Linked DNA regions of Homo sapiens: region 1 is linked to region 2. The links come from fine-mapping of genetic effects on gene expression. Tissue or cell type: ovary. Region 2 holds a variant in brackets; the other region holds the start of a gene. All regions are shown on one strand. Distances are from middle to middle.

What was found. PIP is the estimated chance that this variant, and not a neighbour inherited with it, causes the effect.
Region 1: it holds the start of BRIP1, and the variant in region 2 is fine-mapped to the expression of BRIP1 in ovary (GTEx, PIP above 0.99). The same link has a PIP of 0.9 or more in esophagus mucosa and unexposed skin.

Annotation. Positions count from the first base shown.
Region 1 is chr17:61,858,655-61,866,843 of GRCh38, forward strand. BRIP1 (BRCA1 interacting DNA helicase 1) reads right to left here and starts at 4,874. Exons shown (of 20, transcript NM_032043.3): 1 at 4,630-4,874; 2 at 2,793-2,915; 3 at 1,142-1,253. The coding sequence starts at 2,885. It overlaps INTS2 (integrator complex subunit 2), which reads right to left. Exons shown (of 25, transcript NM_001351695.2): 25 at 6,713-8,189.
Region 2 is chr17:61,780,131-61,788,319 of GRCh38, forward strand. BRIP1 (BRCA1 interacting DNA helicase 1) reads right to left here. Exons shown (of 20, transcript NM_032043.3): 11 at 4,140-4,294; 12 at 710-875; 13 at 131-271. Among named protein-coding and RNA genes, the nearest start is that of BRIP1, 79 kb to the right of the region's middle. RefSeq lists an enhancer at 4,016-4,115. The variant G/A (reference allele first, on the strand shown) is at 4,591.

The DNA of each region.
Region 1 (8,189 bases), 79 kb after region 2:
GCGCCACTGTGCCCAGCCTTAATATACTCTTATTAGTAACAAACATTTCATTTTAAAAATGTATCTATATACCTATATACACATACATACATACATACACATACCATGTTTAACCTCAATTCTCCTAATACTTTAGGTTAAAGCCATCTAATGTAACTAAAATGTATCCAATATTATATTTCTGATTCATTATGTAGTTTATATAGTCTTTCATAGAAGTAAATATTAATAGGCATTTGTTAGCAAACAAAGTAAAAATAGTTTGGCCTGGTGGCTCATGCCTATAATCCCAACTATTTAAGAGGCTGAAGCAGGAGAATCACTTGAGCCTGGGAGTTTGAGGTTACAGTGAGCTATGATCACATCACTATGCTCCATCCCAGGTGACGCCACTCAAAAAAAAAAAAAAAAAAAGGAAAAGTAGTGGGAAGTAATATAAATTCATACAAACAATATTATACTAAATTTCTGTTTATCTGGCATTTAAACAAGTAGAAAGATCAACTAGAATGTATTCTTTTTTATATATTCCATGTGCTGATGTTATGAGAAAGGAACAGGTAAGCAAATATATTAAAGGATTTCCCCCCCCAAAAAAAGCAATTAGTATGTGTTACAGCATCATGACAGCCCATCTCTTGCATCTTTTACATACAAATTATCATCTAATTATTTTTATAATAACTCTAAGCATCCAAAACTTTGTTTGTTTGTTTTCTTTCACCCAGGCTGGAGTGCACAATCACAGCTCTCTGCAACCTCGACCTCCTGGGCTCAAGCGATCCTACCACCTCAGTCTCCCAAGTAGCTGGGACTACAAGTGTACATCACCATGCCTGGCTAATTGATTGTCAATTTTTGTAGAGATGGGGTATCACCATGCTGCCCAGGCTGCCAAGTCTTTATGTACTTTCCGACTCATCAAAAGACTAAATTATGTTCAATACTATTTTAGCATTAATTAAACATATTTTGCTATATTGAAACTCTTTTGGAAGATTTATAACTTATTTCAAAGAAACATCTTTAAACAAATATTTAAGTTAGCGACAGCATGGCTGAACCAGTCTGGATAAAGAATACTGTATTATATTTTCTCAGATCCCAGTAAGTAACCTGAAGATATCAAGCAACTACTTACCACTAAGAGATTGTTGCCATGCTAAAGCAGAACAAAGTAAGGCTAAGCTTTTTCCACTTCCTGTGGGACTCTCCAACAAACAATGTTGCTTGCTGTTTAATCCTCTGAGAATCTATGAACACAGAAACCAATGAAAATAATAAACATATTAACTTTATAAAGGTCTCTCTCCATCTGAAGTTTAAATAGAACAGCAAGGAAAAGTGAGATTGCACTCCAGGGAACACAACAATAGCAGAAGGAACTCATATTTAGTTAAATCCAAACTGTATTCCTTTACACCTCTCCCTAAGATTATCTTACTAAAATATCAAGCACAAGAGAAGAAATGAAAAGAGGAATCTGTGCCAGAATTATGCAAGCATCAATGATTTCTGTAAAACCAGAATACATTACTACCTATCAATATATTTGATGAAAACTTAATGAAGGATACTGCTAGTGAGAGTACAAATTGTTACAACTACTTGGTAGAGAAATAAACAATTTCTTATAAAGTGAAGATGCCCAGCTCCAGCAAGTCCAGTTCTATGTGTACACCCAAAACCTTTCCCACATGAACACAAGGAAACATGCATAAGAAAGTTCACAGCAGCAGCCACGCTTGTAATCCCATCACTTTGGGAGGCCAAGGCAGGTGGATCATTTGAGGTCAGGAGTTCGAGACCAGCCTGGCCAACACGGTGAAAACCCGTCTCTACTAAAAATCCAAAAATTAGCTGGGCGTGGTGGCGCATCCCTGTAATCCCAGCTACTGGGGAGGCTGAGGCAGGAGAATAGCTTCAGCCTGGGAGGCAGGGGTTGCAGTGAGCCAAGATCGCGCCACTGCACTCCAATCTGGGCGACAGAGTGAGACGCTGTCTCAAAAACAAAAAGAAAAAAGGAAGTTCACAGCAGCATTGTTTGTAACTGCAAAAGAATGTAAACAACCTAAATGTCTACCAATAAGAAAATGGACAGATAAATTCTGGTATATTCATCCAATGGAATTTATACAACAATTAAAATGGATTAAGAATCAACAGGGCTATACATTAAAAATAATGCTAAGTTAAAAAACTCAAGTTCTGCATAAAAAGTAAGGTACCGTATCACATCAATGCACAGTTTCAAATATGTAAAATAATATTCTATATTGTTTATGGATACATATATATGTAATAAAAGTATAAAAACATGGCTAGGAAAGGAAAAGAACAAATTCAGGATACTAATAATCTTGTTACCAGTAAATAAGATATGAAGTACATATGGCAAAATAGCTGTAACAAAACTGGAAAGCTGGTTTACTCAAATTTGTATATTAATTTTCTACATGATCCAAACAAAACAATGGTGAGAAAAATAGTATTCTGTGTAAAAGATAGTAAATACTCTGTTTTTACTTAAAAGTATAGCAGTTTTTCATTAAAAGTATAGAAATTCCAAATGAGCTGAGAACATTTTTCAGAATGTTCTTCTTTGCCTTAACCACAGATATATACAGTTTAGCTGCAATCAGTAGTTTCCCAGAGGTTAGATATTCTTCCAAGTGAACCCAGAAAATATTCTCCATTTACTGAGAATATGAATGCAGTCAAATACTCAATGTACTTTATGGGTCATAAGTATCTATATCTTAATAAAAACTTAACTGCTGAAAAATACTTACAGAATTCATCATAGCAAGCTGTGACGGGTAAGCTTTATAAGGAAAGTAAATCTTCACCCCACCAATTGTATATTCAGACCACATTGAAGACATAGTGCTTTCCTGTTTATTTCAGATTCCTAACTACAACAGAAATGAAAATGTCAAATATTGAGACACGCCTTACAAAGAAAACCAGAGAACCAAAACTAAGGGAGAAATCTGGAAACAGAAACTGGAATTAATAAAAGTATAAACAAAACAAATGGAAACAAAATAATTTCCTAGTCTTATAAATCACAGCGGTCAAGAGCATGTCTTAGAGTCTAACAAATCTAGATTTGTATCCTTCACTCTGCCAGGTATTAGTTGTGTGACTTCGGGAAAGTTAGTTACCTTCTCTAAGCCACAGTGACTGCATGTACCCCATAGGATTGTGGTAATGATTAAGTGAAATAATGTGCAAATATGATAAAGTACATACCAGATTAAACATGAGCTCTTGTAACAGTTAGATCAGATGTAATCAACCTACAGAAACAAATAAGTTCCTGAGGCCTCTCTCTCTACAACTCCGTAGCATCACTCTTTCTCCAGTTCTTCCCCTTTGTGTTACCCCTTTCTGCAGTCCTCCAGTTAGAAGAAAAAAGCTGTTGACCAGAAGTCAGGAAGCATAGGTTCTATACCAGGTTTTGGTATACTGCCTGGTATGTTATCTTTGACTCAGGTATGTTATCTTTGACATATCTTTTTACTTCTCTAGTCTAAGATCCTTACCTGTGATAACCCCTAATTTAATTTAAAGGCTGTTATAAGAAAGAGAATGCCTTGGCACATAGTAGGCACTCAAAAATGTTATTTGAAGATCAGTAGAGTATTATAGAAACAGGATGGGCTTTGGAGTAAGGCAATCCTAAGTTTGAATTCCACTGTGTGAATCACTTAACTTCTCAGAGCTTGTTTCTCCATATATGGAATTGAAATACTACTACTTACCTGACAGGGTTTTTATGAAAATTAGCCAGGGCAGAATGTACCTAACCCAGGATCTGATACAGATGAGGATCACTTTAATCCTCACCTCTTCTAAACCACTTTTCTTAACCTAGGATCCACGGATGTAATTCAGAGACAATGACCTCTTGAAATTGCAAGCATAAGTTTCTGTACATGATTGCATTTTTCTGAAGAAAAAGTCCATAGATTTCTCTTCCCGTAAATATATCTCAAGGAAATCAAAATAGCGGGGGAAATTACATGCACTGTTATTAAATAAGGAATTATTTGCAGTCGTGGGAAAAAATTGTAAATTCAACCTGGGGACGAAGAGATGGTTAAAATAGCAATTCAATAGATTATGAAGCCAATAATAACATTCACCACTGCTTGTGTGCTCCAAAAGAAGAACCATTATTCTAGGGTATTTTCCAGCTCTAACATTTTGCGATTCTATCTGTAAAGCTCTGAGAATGAGGTATGGTGGAATCTAACCTCTTAATATGAATCAACAACTCAACGCTGGCCTAGTTACTCAGATATAATCTAGAAATCAGCCCGTCCTGTACCCCGGCTGTGGCAACAATAGTGTCAAAATGGGGTAGCTTCCCCCAAACATTGCATAAAGGATAAACACACCCCTCTGCCTCCCGCCAAGAATTAACGCAGCGCCCGGGCTAAGAACAGGCCTGCGCTCAAAGGAGGTAAGGATAGGCTCCCTCCTCAGGTTTTCTGCCCCGTATCTCCCTCCTCCCCCAGCCAGTTGAGATCCCCGAGACCCTGGTGATCCAGTCACCACCCATGGGCCCGCAGGCTGTGCAGAAGAACTCAAGCCCTTTCCGTGGACTTCCCTCCGACTTGCCTGTCTGGAGGGAAACCGAAGCAACGCTCTGAGCTCCGATTCACTGAAGAAAAGGAAAGGAAACCGACTTCTGAGAGCAAATAAAGCGGAGCCCTGGAAGAGAAGAAAGGGCACGAGCCCTTCCTCCTCCCTCTTCCTGGGGGTGCTGCTACTTCCCCGGCCTTGTGTGCAGGACTGGGGCCGCCGTTACCTTTCCTCGACCCACCAGACCCCTCAACCACACAACCCGAGACGAATTCCCGCCTCCCGCCCCCTCGACTCCCAGCGCCCAATAGCCCAGCGAGCTCGACCAATCACCCGCCAAGGCCAGGAATCAACCAGTCCCGGTGCGAGGTGAGGGGGCGAGAACTTCGGCATCCAATGGAAGTCTCCGAAAAAAAAAAAAAAAAACAAGGGCTCAAGGTACGCGGCGGAAGGTTGTCGCCACTCCAGCAAATCCCTAGTGTTTGTTTAAAGTAGAAAGTCGTCTCAGTTTGACTTTTGAAACCGGCGATAGAGTCTATGCAGCAAATTCCTTGGAAACTGGAAGTCTCATTCTTCACGTCCGTAGACCAGCGGAAAGGAAGTATCTTTAAGCTTTGCCAAGTTCTTTGAGCATTTATCAGTGCCACTCAATTTAAATTACCCAGCTTTGCAGTAGCCAGGATAGCGAAGACTCAGGCGGGAATTGCCAGACTGCTGAGCCAAACTTAAGTAAGAAGGCTCTGTGACATCGGGCTACAATCTATCTTTCATAATATTCAAGGCTTTCCCGGATGCTAAAATAAGCCAGAGACAAGCTCTCAGGGTCTCCAGTATCAGATCACTTCTACTTCCATTAAGGCTTATCCGCCTTCCATCCCTCCTAAGACCAGTTTATTATTTGCCAGTAGTACTTTAATTTACTCAAAGAAAAGGAGGTTCATCATGATCTTGCCAAATCATGTTATTTTTTTAAAAAATCTGTATAACCTAAACTTGGCTCAAATAATAATGTCTCCAAAAGGCAAAACCTCATACTGTTTCTCAAATTCAAGTAACTAGTTTGGGGAAGGAGTTTGCTGGGAAGAAAGAGCAGGAGGGGGCTAGTTGATTTGTTTGCCTCATTGTCAATTGTGATATATCTTACCAAAAATGACAAAACTTGTAGTCATAAAAATAAACTCTACCCTTTGACCTAGTAATCTGAGCTCCAGATATTTATCCTAAAGACGTAATCTAAACGAAAGAAAATGTGATACCGCAATTGACAATAATATCTATTGGTAATACTGAAAAAAATTATGAACTTCCCAGTCTAGTAATATGGAGGTGGTTATGACAGATGAATTCAATACATTATGAAGCCAATAAACTTATAAAAATTAAACTTGCAAGAAAAAATCCCATATAAGGTTAAGTGAAAAAAGGCAAAGCAAACCCCAAACTGGGTGTTAGGGATTCAGTAATGTGAAAATACATATGAATGAGCAAAGATGAAGTAATTTACTGTTAAGACAATGAAAGGAAGGATAATGTTTAAAAATAAATCCTTAAAAATACCTTCAAATTGTCATTTCTCTTTTATAATTTTTAAAACATCAACTCTTGGCCGGGCGCAGTGGCTCACGCCTGTAATCCCAGCACTTTGGGAGGCCGAGGCAGGCGGATCACCAGGTCAGGAGACCAAGACCATCCTGGCTAACACGGTGAAACCCCGTCTCTACTAAAAATACAAAAAATTAGCCGGGCGTGGTGGCGGGCGCCTGTAGTCCCAGCTACTCGGGAGACTGAGGCAGGAGAATGGCGTGAACCCAGGAGGCGGAGCTTGCAGTGAGCCGAGATGGCGCCACTGCACTCCAGCCTGGGAGACAGAGCGAGACTCCGTCTCAAAAAAAAAAAAAATCAACTCTTTTGAGTAACTGCTCTAGTATAACTACTCTCATTTTCCTCTCCTAAATTACTAAGAGTTTCAACTGGCTCTCACCTTGCATTGCCATTTAATGTATGTGGCATAACAGAAAGGGATACACGTAGGCCCTGGAGCCATACAGACCTCGAATACAGTCCCTTGAACCGTTCCCTTCAGGTTAACTCTAGTGGAATGAAACACAAAAACTACAGGTTCGTTTGATAAAGAATATGAATGTTTATAAACCAATATTCAAAATAGCTGCACACATCTGTTTTCACTTGAATAAAAAAACACATTGTGACAAATTTTATAACCTTAACTTAAAATACATGAATATTAACATTTACTAATATATTTACACATTTTATTTACATCATCAACAAATCTGATGAAAAAGAGCATATGTGATTATTTTAACACAGCAGGTTATGACCAGTCTTTGAATATTGATCCAGGAATGTGCACTGCATTTAATTAGAAAACATACTTTTAACTTTTTCTGAACTCCTAGGGCATATCTATTCACACAAAATATCGCAAGGCCTCAGTTTAAAAAAAAAAGGAGCAGTTGTATTTAATCTTAAGGGACTACAAAACTGCCTTGTTTAAAAATATGAAAATTCTTATGCTATTTTTAAGATACTTTTATTACTTTTATTTTTCACATCAAAATTACTTAATTGAACATTAAGCATCTAATAAAAAGTTATAAATATTCTATCACATGTGATACTATGCACTTCATGATTTGAAACAGCTACAAACTCATTCTCATAGAATATGAGGTAGGGCCAGTAGTAACCCCATTTTACAAAGGAAGAAAATGAGATGTGACTATTTACTAGTGAAAAGGCTAAAGTTAAATTTCATTTCTCAAAAACTACACCTTCTTATTAGCCTAATTTCTTTTACAAGTGAAGCGGTCTGGCCAGGTGCGGTGGCTCACACCTGTAATCCCAGCACTTTGGGAGGCCAAGGTGGGCAGATCACCTGAGGCCAGGAGTTCAAAACCAGTCTGGGCAACATGGCAAACCCCCGTCTTTACTAAAAATACAAAAATACAGGTGGCGCGTGCCTGCAGTCCCAGCTACTCAGGAGGTTGAGGCACGAGAATCCCTTGAACCCAGGTGGCAGAAGTTGCAGTGAGCCAAGATCATCCCACTGCACTCCAGCCTGGGCAACAGGGGAAGACTCCACCTCAGGAAAAAAAAAAAAAAAACACAAGTGAAGAGGTCTGTTTCAAGTGGGGGTGGGGAAGTGTGTGATTGAGGTATATCTCAGAGAGAAAAAAGGGAATTACTTTCTACATTGATAATTTTTTTTTAATGATTAGGGTTTACCTGAATATGTCTGCCTAATCAATGGAAGTTACTGACAGAGGACTGCAAAATCCTTCGGCAAGACAATATTTTCTACACTTTAACTTTTCCTCAGGTTCAAACACTGCATTTTCTTACTCAAAGATCTTCTCAAAGTAAGATATGAATTATAATCCTGATGACAAACCAAGAGCTCTTTAATCCAGTGGGTTTTATTGCTCTACCTTCATTTAATTTGATACATATTTCCCCCCTCTGAGCATTAGGTAAGTTAATAAAGCATTATAAAAATAAATTTAAAACATAAAACTAAATGAGATCTCTCAGGTTCTTCTTTGAACAAAGATGTTTCTGTAAACACTTTTACA
Region 2 (8,189 bases):
GTAAAACTGGAATGTTGAATTTCCTACCAAGATTTACTTGCTGGCACTTCAGGTATCTTCTAACTTGTTTACATAGTTATATTGAAGTAGAAACACTGAAGGCCTTCCAAAAAAAAAAACAACAACTAACCTGTGAATTTTTAATGATATGATTAGCCTCCAGCTGGATAGTAAATGTAACACCAAGTTCTGACGAAAAGGATTTCATTGGTGATAATGTACCAGATGTCAAAACAATGGTCTGAACTTTGCCATTAATATCTGAAAAGGCCTAAAAGAAAACAACATTAGATAAATAAAATTATCTTTAGAAGAGGCTGGGCAAAGTGGCTCACACCTGTAATCCCAGCACTTTGGGAGGCTGAAGCAGGAAGATCGCTTGAGTCTAGGAGTCTGAGACCAGCCTGGGCAATATGGTGAAACCCCGTCTCTACAAAAAATACAAAAATTAGCCGGGCATGGTGACACATGCCTATAGTCCCAGCTACTCGGGAAGCTAAGGTGGGAGGATCGCTTGAGCCTGGAAGGTCAAGGCTACAGTGAGCTGAGATTGCACCACTGCACTCCAGCCTGGGTGAAGAGCAAGACCCTGCCTCAAAACAACAACAACAACAACAACAAACAACTATCTTTAAAAGAGTCAACCACATTTATTAAAATGCTGGTACTGAGCAAGAAGACAAAATTTCCATTTACATGATGAGCTTACCACAGCTGGATTTAAGCACCAAAAGTTTAGCACATGAACTGCAGTTTTCTGTCGTGAACGTTTCTTATTTTTTGGTAGAACCAACAACCCATTTTTGTCTGAAATATCAATCTGATTTGTCCAGGAGTAAGTCTGTTGAATCGCAATTTTATAATCATCTGCAAATCTAGATGCAAAGAAAGTGCTAATTAAGTGGCAAAACTTTTAAAACCTATGACCCAGCTACATACAATATAAAAACTGATTACATTAAAACTCATTTGAAAGAGCTGGTACCTTCCCATTCAAAAATAACATTCTCCTTACCATTAATTAAATTCAGTAATTCTGATATTAATAAAGCCATTAATCATAGAATCAACTGATTCTCAGAGGGAATATTAGAAATCATCTAACCATCTATCTTTTATCAGCTACTTCCTAACCTCATTTTCAAACATTACATATGTCATGGCAGAAGCAGAATTAAAATCCAGGCCTCCTAACTCCCAGTCCAGAGCTCTCTGCATGCTCTACTACATGATGAGTTACAAAATAGAAAACAGTATTATGGTTAAAGAGACTAAAAGGTGGGTTATACTTTTTTATTAAATGAGAAAATAGAAGGATAATTTTTACTGAAAGTTTTTAAAGTATTAGCAACAAGTTATAAAATTCTTACATTCCTTTGAAACCTGAGTCTCAGCCTTCATCTACTTTTAATGAAGGTGCTGAACCAGATGATATCTGTGATCCCATCCAGTGTATAACTGCTTTCAATAAGAATCTAGAAAATGGTTAAGCTTAAAAATAATAAAATGTGGCCAGGCGCGGTGGTTCACACCTGTAATCCCAGCACTTTGGGAGGCCGAGGCAGGTGGATCACGAGGTCAGGAGTTCGAGACCAGCCTGGCCAACATGGTGAAACCCCGTCTCTACTAAAAATACAAAAATTAGCCAGGTGTGGTGGCAGTCGCCTGTAACCCCAGCTACTCAGGAGGCTGAGGCAGGAGAATCACTTGAACCCGGGAGGTGGAGGTTGCAGTGAGCTGAGATAGCGCCACTGCACTGTAGCCTGGGTGACGGAGCAAGACTCCATCTCAAAAAAAAAAAAAAAAGTAAAATGTGATATTCTCTACCATGTCTTCGCTATAGTATTTCCTTATTCATTTCACTCCTAGAGAGATTAGATCTCAAAATTAAAGTTGGGAACTTAACAACTGTGGAGAGAATCTTATAAAAATACTGGGAGCCAAAAACTGTAAAACTCTTAAAACAAAGGGGAGACCGGGTGCGATGGCTCACGCCTGTAATCCCAGCACTTTGGGAGGCCGAGGTGGGCGGATCACGAGGTCAGGAGATCGAGACCATTCTGGCTAACACGGTGAAACCCCGTCTCTACTAGAAAATACAAAAAATTAGCCGGGCTTAGTGGCGGGCGCCTGTAGTCCCAGCTACTCGGGAGGCTGAGGCAGGAGAATGGCATGAACCCGGGAGGCTGAGCTTGCAGTGAGCCGAGATCGCGCCACTGCACTCCAACCTGGGTGACAGAGCGAGACTCCCGTCTCAGAAAAAAAAAAAAAAAAAGGAAAAGAAAACATAGGGGAAATCTTCATATCAGATTTGGCCATGATTTACTGGATGTGACACTAAAAGTACAGGCAACAACAAGAAAAGAGAAAGATAAATTGGACTTCAACAAGATTAAAAACCTTTTCTGCATCAAAGGACACTATGAATAAATGAAAAAACAACCCACAGAATGAGAGAAAATATTTGTAAAGTATATATCTCTTACAGGACTGACATCCAGAATATCTAAATAACTACAGCTCAACAACAACAACAAAAAAACCCAATAATTCAAAAGTGGGCAAAAGACTTCAATAGATATTTCTCCAAAAAAAGACATACAATTGGCCAATAAGCACATGAAAAGATTCTCAACTTCTCTAGTCATTAGGAAATACAAATAAAAACCAGATGATATCACTTGATACCTATTAGGATGGCTATTATACAAAAAATAAAATAACGAGTGTCAGCAAAAACAATTCTGATATATGCTGCTACATAAACTGTTGGCAAGGATGTGTAGAAATTGGAACCCTTGTGCATTGATAATGAGAATGGAAAATAATGCAGTTGCTGTGAGAAACAGTATGGTGAGTCCTCAAAAAGTTAAATGCAGCATTACCATATGATTCTGCAATTCCACTGCTAGGTACTTATATACACCCAGAAGAACTGAAAGCAGAACTCAGATATTTGTACACCAACGTTCATAGTAGCATTGTTTACAATAGGCAAAAGATGAAAACAACCCAAATGTCCATTAACATAAGAATAAATTAACAAATTGTGGTATATACATACAATGGAGTATTATTCAGCCATAGAAAGGAATGAAATTCTGATATATGCTACTACATAAATGAACTCTGAAAACACTGTGCCAAATGAATTGAAATAAGCCAGACACAAAAAGACAAACATTGTATGATCGCTCTTATGTGAAATACCTAGAAAGGACTTCATAAGATGAAAATAGAATACAGGTTAGCAGGTGATGAGGGGAAAGACTCTAGGGGTTATTATTTCATGGGTACAGAATTCCTATTTGGAATAATAAAAAATTTCTGGAAATCTCTGGAAATGAGTACAATGTACAACATTGCAAATATACTGTACTTAATGGCACTGAGTTGTATACGTAAAATGGTTAAAATGGTGTATTTTATGTATATTTTACCACAATAAAAAAAAAATACCAGAACTAGGTACTACTATAATTTAAGTTACAGGATGAGAGGGATTGGTTGTTTTTCATTTTCCACAGTTCATACAATAAAAAAGGGACTTTCTGACACTGTAGGAACATAAGAAAACTTTAGCAATAGAAGATAATTTAATATGAATTAATTAAATATATTTATTTAATGATTTCAATATTCATTAATATAAAAGACTAATTTTGGCCAGGCATGGGCTCACACTTACAATCCTAGCACTTTGGGAGGCTGAGGTGGGAGGATCACTTGAGGCCAGGAGTTCAAGACCATCCTGATCAACATAGTGAGATCTCATCTCTACAAAAAAAATAAAAATTAAAAAATTAGCTGGGTGTGGGTGTTGCACACCTGTAATCCCAGCTACTCAGGAAACAGGTGGGAGGATTGCTTAAGCCCAGGAGGTCAAAGTTGCAGTGAGCTGTGATCATGCAACTGCACTTCAGCCTGGGTGACAGAGAAGTCCCTGTCTCAAAAAAGCATCAGACTAATTTCAATTCCTCTAAGTCTGTGTCAATAAGAGCAAATATATAATAATATCTATAACACTTGTTTTCAATTCTCCTATTTACTCACCCAAAATAGGTATGTATTAAACACATGCTAGCATCCAAATTAGGCTATTTTTAAAAGGAAAATACATACTAGTTATCTTCACTTACCTGCTATTTTGCCTAAAAAGATAGTCAAGTACCATAAAAAGTCCTTTAAGCATTATTTGAGTTGATGCACTAATAACAGGTACTTCTCTTGCCTCCTCTTTACCATAAATTGGTGAGATTTTTTCCTCTTTTTGAAGAACAGCAGAAAAATGTCCCTATAAGAAATTACCATATTAAGTATAGAGGGGTTGGGAGGGAATTGGAAAAAGAAACTTCTCAAAAATACAATGAAACCCAACAAAACATGCATTGAAATTTTAGGTGAACAGAATTGCTATAGTTTGATAGTCTGACTTCTCCAAATCTGATATTGAAATTTCATCCCCAGTAATGGAAGTGGGGCATATCAGGAGGTTTGGGACCATGGGGGTAGATACCTCATGAATAGATTAACGCCCTCCCTAAGTAGAGAGGGGGTGAGTTAGTGCTCTGTTAGTTCCCACGAGAGCTG[G/A]TTGTTAGAAAGAGCCTGACACCTCCCTCCCTTCTCTCTCTCGCTTCTTCTCTTGCCATATGATCTGTACAAACCAGCTCCCCTTCACCTTTTGCCATCAGTGGAAGCAGGCTAAGGTCCTCAAAATTAGATGCTGGAGCCATGCTTCGTACAAGCTGCAGAACTGTGAACCAAATAAACCTCCTTTCTTTGTAAGTTACCCAGCCTCAGGTATTTATAGTGATACAAACAAAGACAATTATTAACAGCACAATGCTAACAATATATTTTAGATTGCCATATTAGCAAAATTCTCCTCAGAGTCAAAGACTCTTTAATAATAAGTTAGGTATTTAGAAGATTCAATCAGGGTATTATTTGGTGCCTTTCAGATGTAAGGAATTAAATAAAAATGTAGCAAATGGCTTCTCCAAAAGGCTTTAAAGAGTTGATATGTTGCCTTAAATCCATGAGTTATTTCCAGAAAGTAATTCTGATGCTGAGAATAATATGACTACATCACAAGCAAAACTAAATGACTTAAGGAAACAATACATGCTAAATAACAAAATGTATGTTAACTGGTTCTTTGGTCTTTACATGGCTCATAAGTTTTAATATGGATGAAAGTGTGGACATTAAAACAAAATTATAAGAAAACAGAAGAGTATGTTCCCCACATTGTAAAAGAGAAAATTCTGAATACTGAAGCAATAAAAGATATTGGTGACAACTCTGATGTCTGACAATAAAATGTGTTCAATGAAAATAAAATGGGGAAATAGGATAAATAAGAAAGATACATTTTAATATTCAGATATATCATGAAACAATACAAATCTATAAGAGTAAAAATCAGCCTTCACTGAACAAAACATTACAGAATACAAATAAGTAGAAAGACTTAAAAAACAAACCAACAAAGAACAAACAAGAAAGACAACATGAACTTGGAAAAATATTCAGCCCTGCAATGAAATACAAATATCAAATTATTCTTTTTGAAAAATGAAGTCCCCTCAGCAACACCTTATATCAAAGCTTAATATCCTTCTCCAACACTGGCAGAACACTGGCAATTTACTCTGATAAAATATAGAAAATATAAACTACTAAAGGTGAGGCGCTGTACTAAAAACAGAAGGGCTAAATGAAATCCTACATATTCAATTATTAGAGTACTCCGAGCTCAATTCCAGTTAGCTTACCTACACATTGGCAGCTGGGTTGGGGGGGGTAGAAAAATAGAAAACTAAGCAATGGAAAAATAAATAAAAAGTTAATTATGGTTCCTTAGGAAACATACATAAAGCTGTATAAAAATATAATCAAGTAAGCTACATGCATTACTATCATGGGCTATAATAATACATACACGTGATGATATCCACGCTGAATATCAATATAACTATACTGGCAGAATAGAGAGTGAAGAGAGAGAAGAAAGAAGGGCAGAAAAGCAGGAAGCAAAGGAAGAAGAGAGAGCGCATGAGTGAGCGTGTGTGTGTGTGTGTGACAGAGAGAGAAGAGTGTGTGTGAGTGTGTGCGTGTCTAAAGGAGCTAAATCATCATTATACTTAACAGAAAGTCAACAGACAACATCTAAAATTGAAAACTCCAAAGAAGCAGAACCCACGTTATTTTTTTAAATGTGGTTAAATATCAGAAGAAACCACTACAAGAGATAAAAGTGCACTCCAAAGTGAGAATTGGGATTGAGGAGTGGGTCAGAGGAATGCTTTTCTCAACAGAACTGACTCTTTATATTCTATAGGTATACTACTTTGGTAAAAATTCCTAAAAATATTGATAATCATAATGATGAATGTCTTAGCCAACTAGAATTAGGGCAAATTTCCTTAATCCAATAAAAATAACTATAAAATATATAATATAATAAAAATATAATATATATATTATTTAACAGCTCTAATTAATTTTTTAATTTAATTAACTGAATTGAATTGAATTAAAATTAACAGCTTTATTGAGCTATAATTCACATGCTTACAATTTACCTTTTTAAAGTGAGTTCTGTGGGTTATTTCTATATTATATATTTTATATATTATATATTTATATATAATATAGTATATATTATATATTTATATATTTTATATAAATATATTTTATATAATATATTTATATAAAATATATATTCATATATGTATTAATATATTAATATATAAATATATTTTATATATAATGTAAATATAAAAATATATATTTATATATAATATATTTATATATAATATATTTATATTATATTTATATTTATAAATTTATATAAATTTATAAATAATTTTATAAAATTATAATTTTATTTATAAATAAATTTATATAAATTTATATAAATTTATAAATATAATTATATATAAATATATTGCATGTTTATGTATTAATAAATATATTAATATATAATATATTATATACTATATAAAATATATAAAAATATATTATATACTATATAAAATATATAAAAATATATTATATACTATATAAAATATATAAAAATATATTATATACTATATAAAATATATAAAAATATATTATATACTATATAAAATATATAAAAATATATTATATACTATATAAAATATATAAAAATATATTATATACTATATAAAATATATAAAAATATATAAAACATTATATATTAATATATTATATATAGTTATATACTATATATAGTATATATATTTATATAAAATATTTATATAAAATATATAATATATATACTATATATTATATATAAATATATAATATAAAAATAACCCACAGAACTCACTTTAAAAAGGTAAATTTTAAGCATGTGAATTATACCTCAATAGAGCTGTTAATTAAAAAAGAATTTTTAATCACAGCAAACATCTCAATAAAGGGTGCAATACTAGTAATTCCTCCTTTAAGCAACAAAACCAAGATGTCTTTTTCTTTTTTTTATTTTATTTTATTTCTTTTTTGAGACAGAGTCTCGCTCTGTCGCCCAGGCTGGACTGCAGTGGCGCGATTTCGGCTCACTGCAAGCTCCGCCTCCCAGGTTTGCGCCATTCTCCTGCCTCAGCCTCCTGAGTAGCGGGGACTACAGGCGCCCGCCACCACGCCCGGCTAATTTTTTGTATTTTTAGTAGAGACGGGGTTTCACCGTGTTAGCCAGGATGGTCTCAATCTCCTGACCTCGTGATCTGCCCGCCTCGGCCTCCCAAAGTGCTGGGATTACAGGCGTGAGCCACTGCGCCTGGCCCAGGATGTCTTTTTCATTGCCTGTGATAAACAACGCACTGGAAGTCTGAGACAGCATAGTAAGAAATAAAAACATGAAGAAATAGAAAGAAATGAGAAAGAAAGAAACCGGTCATTATTCAGACAATATGGTTATCTACATGGAAAATTTAAGATAATCTGTGGGCAAACCTGTAAAATAATTCAACAAGGTGGTTAATAAGACAATTATAAGATAAATATATAAAAATCAAACACCAGTTTTATATAGCAATAACAATTAAAAATGTAATTTTAAAAATATATCATTTGTAATGGAAACAGAAACTTTAAGCTACCCATGAATAAATCTAACCAAAGCCATCTAATCTTTTAAAAATAAAATTATAAAATTTTAT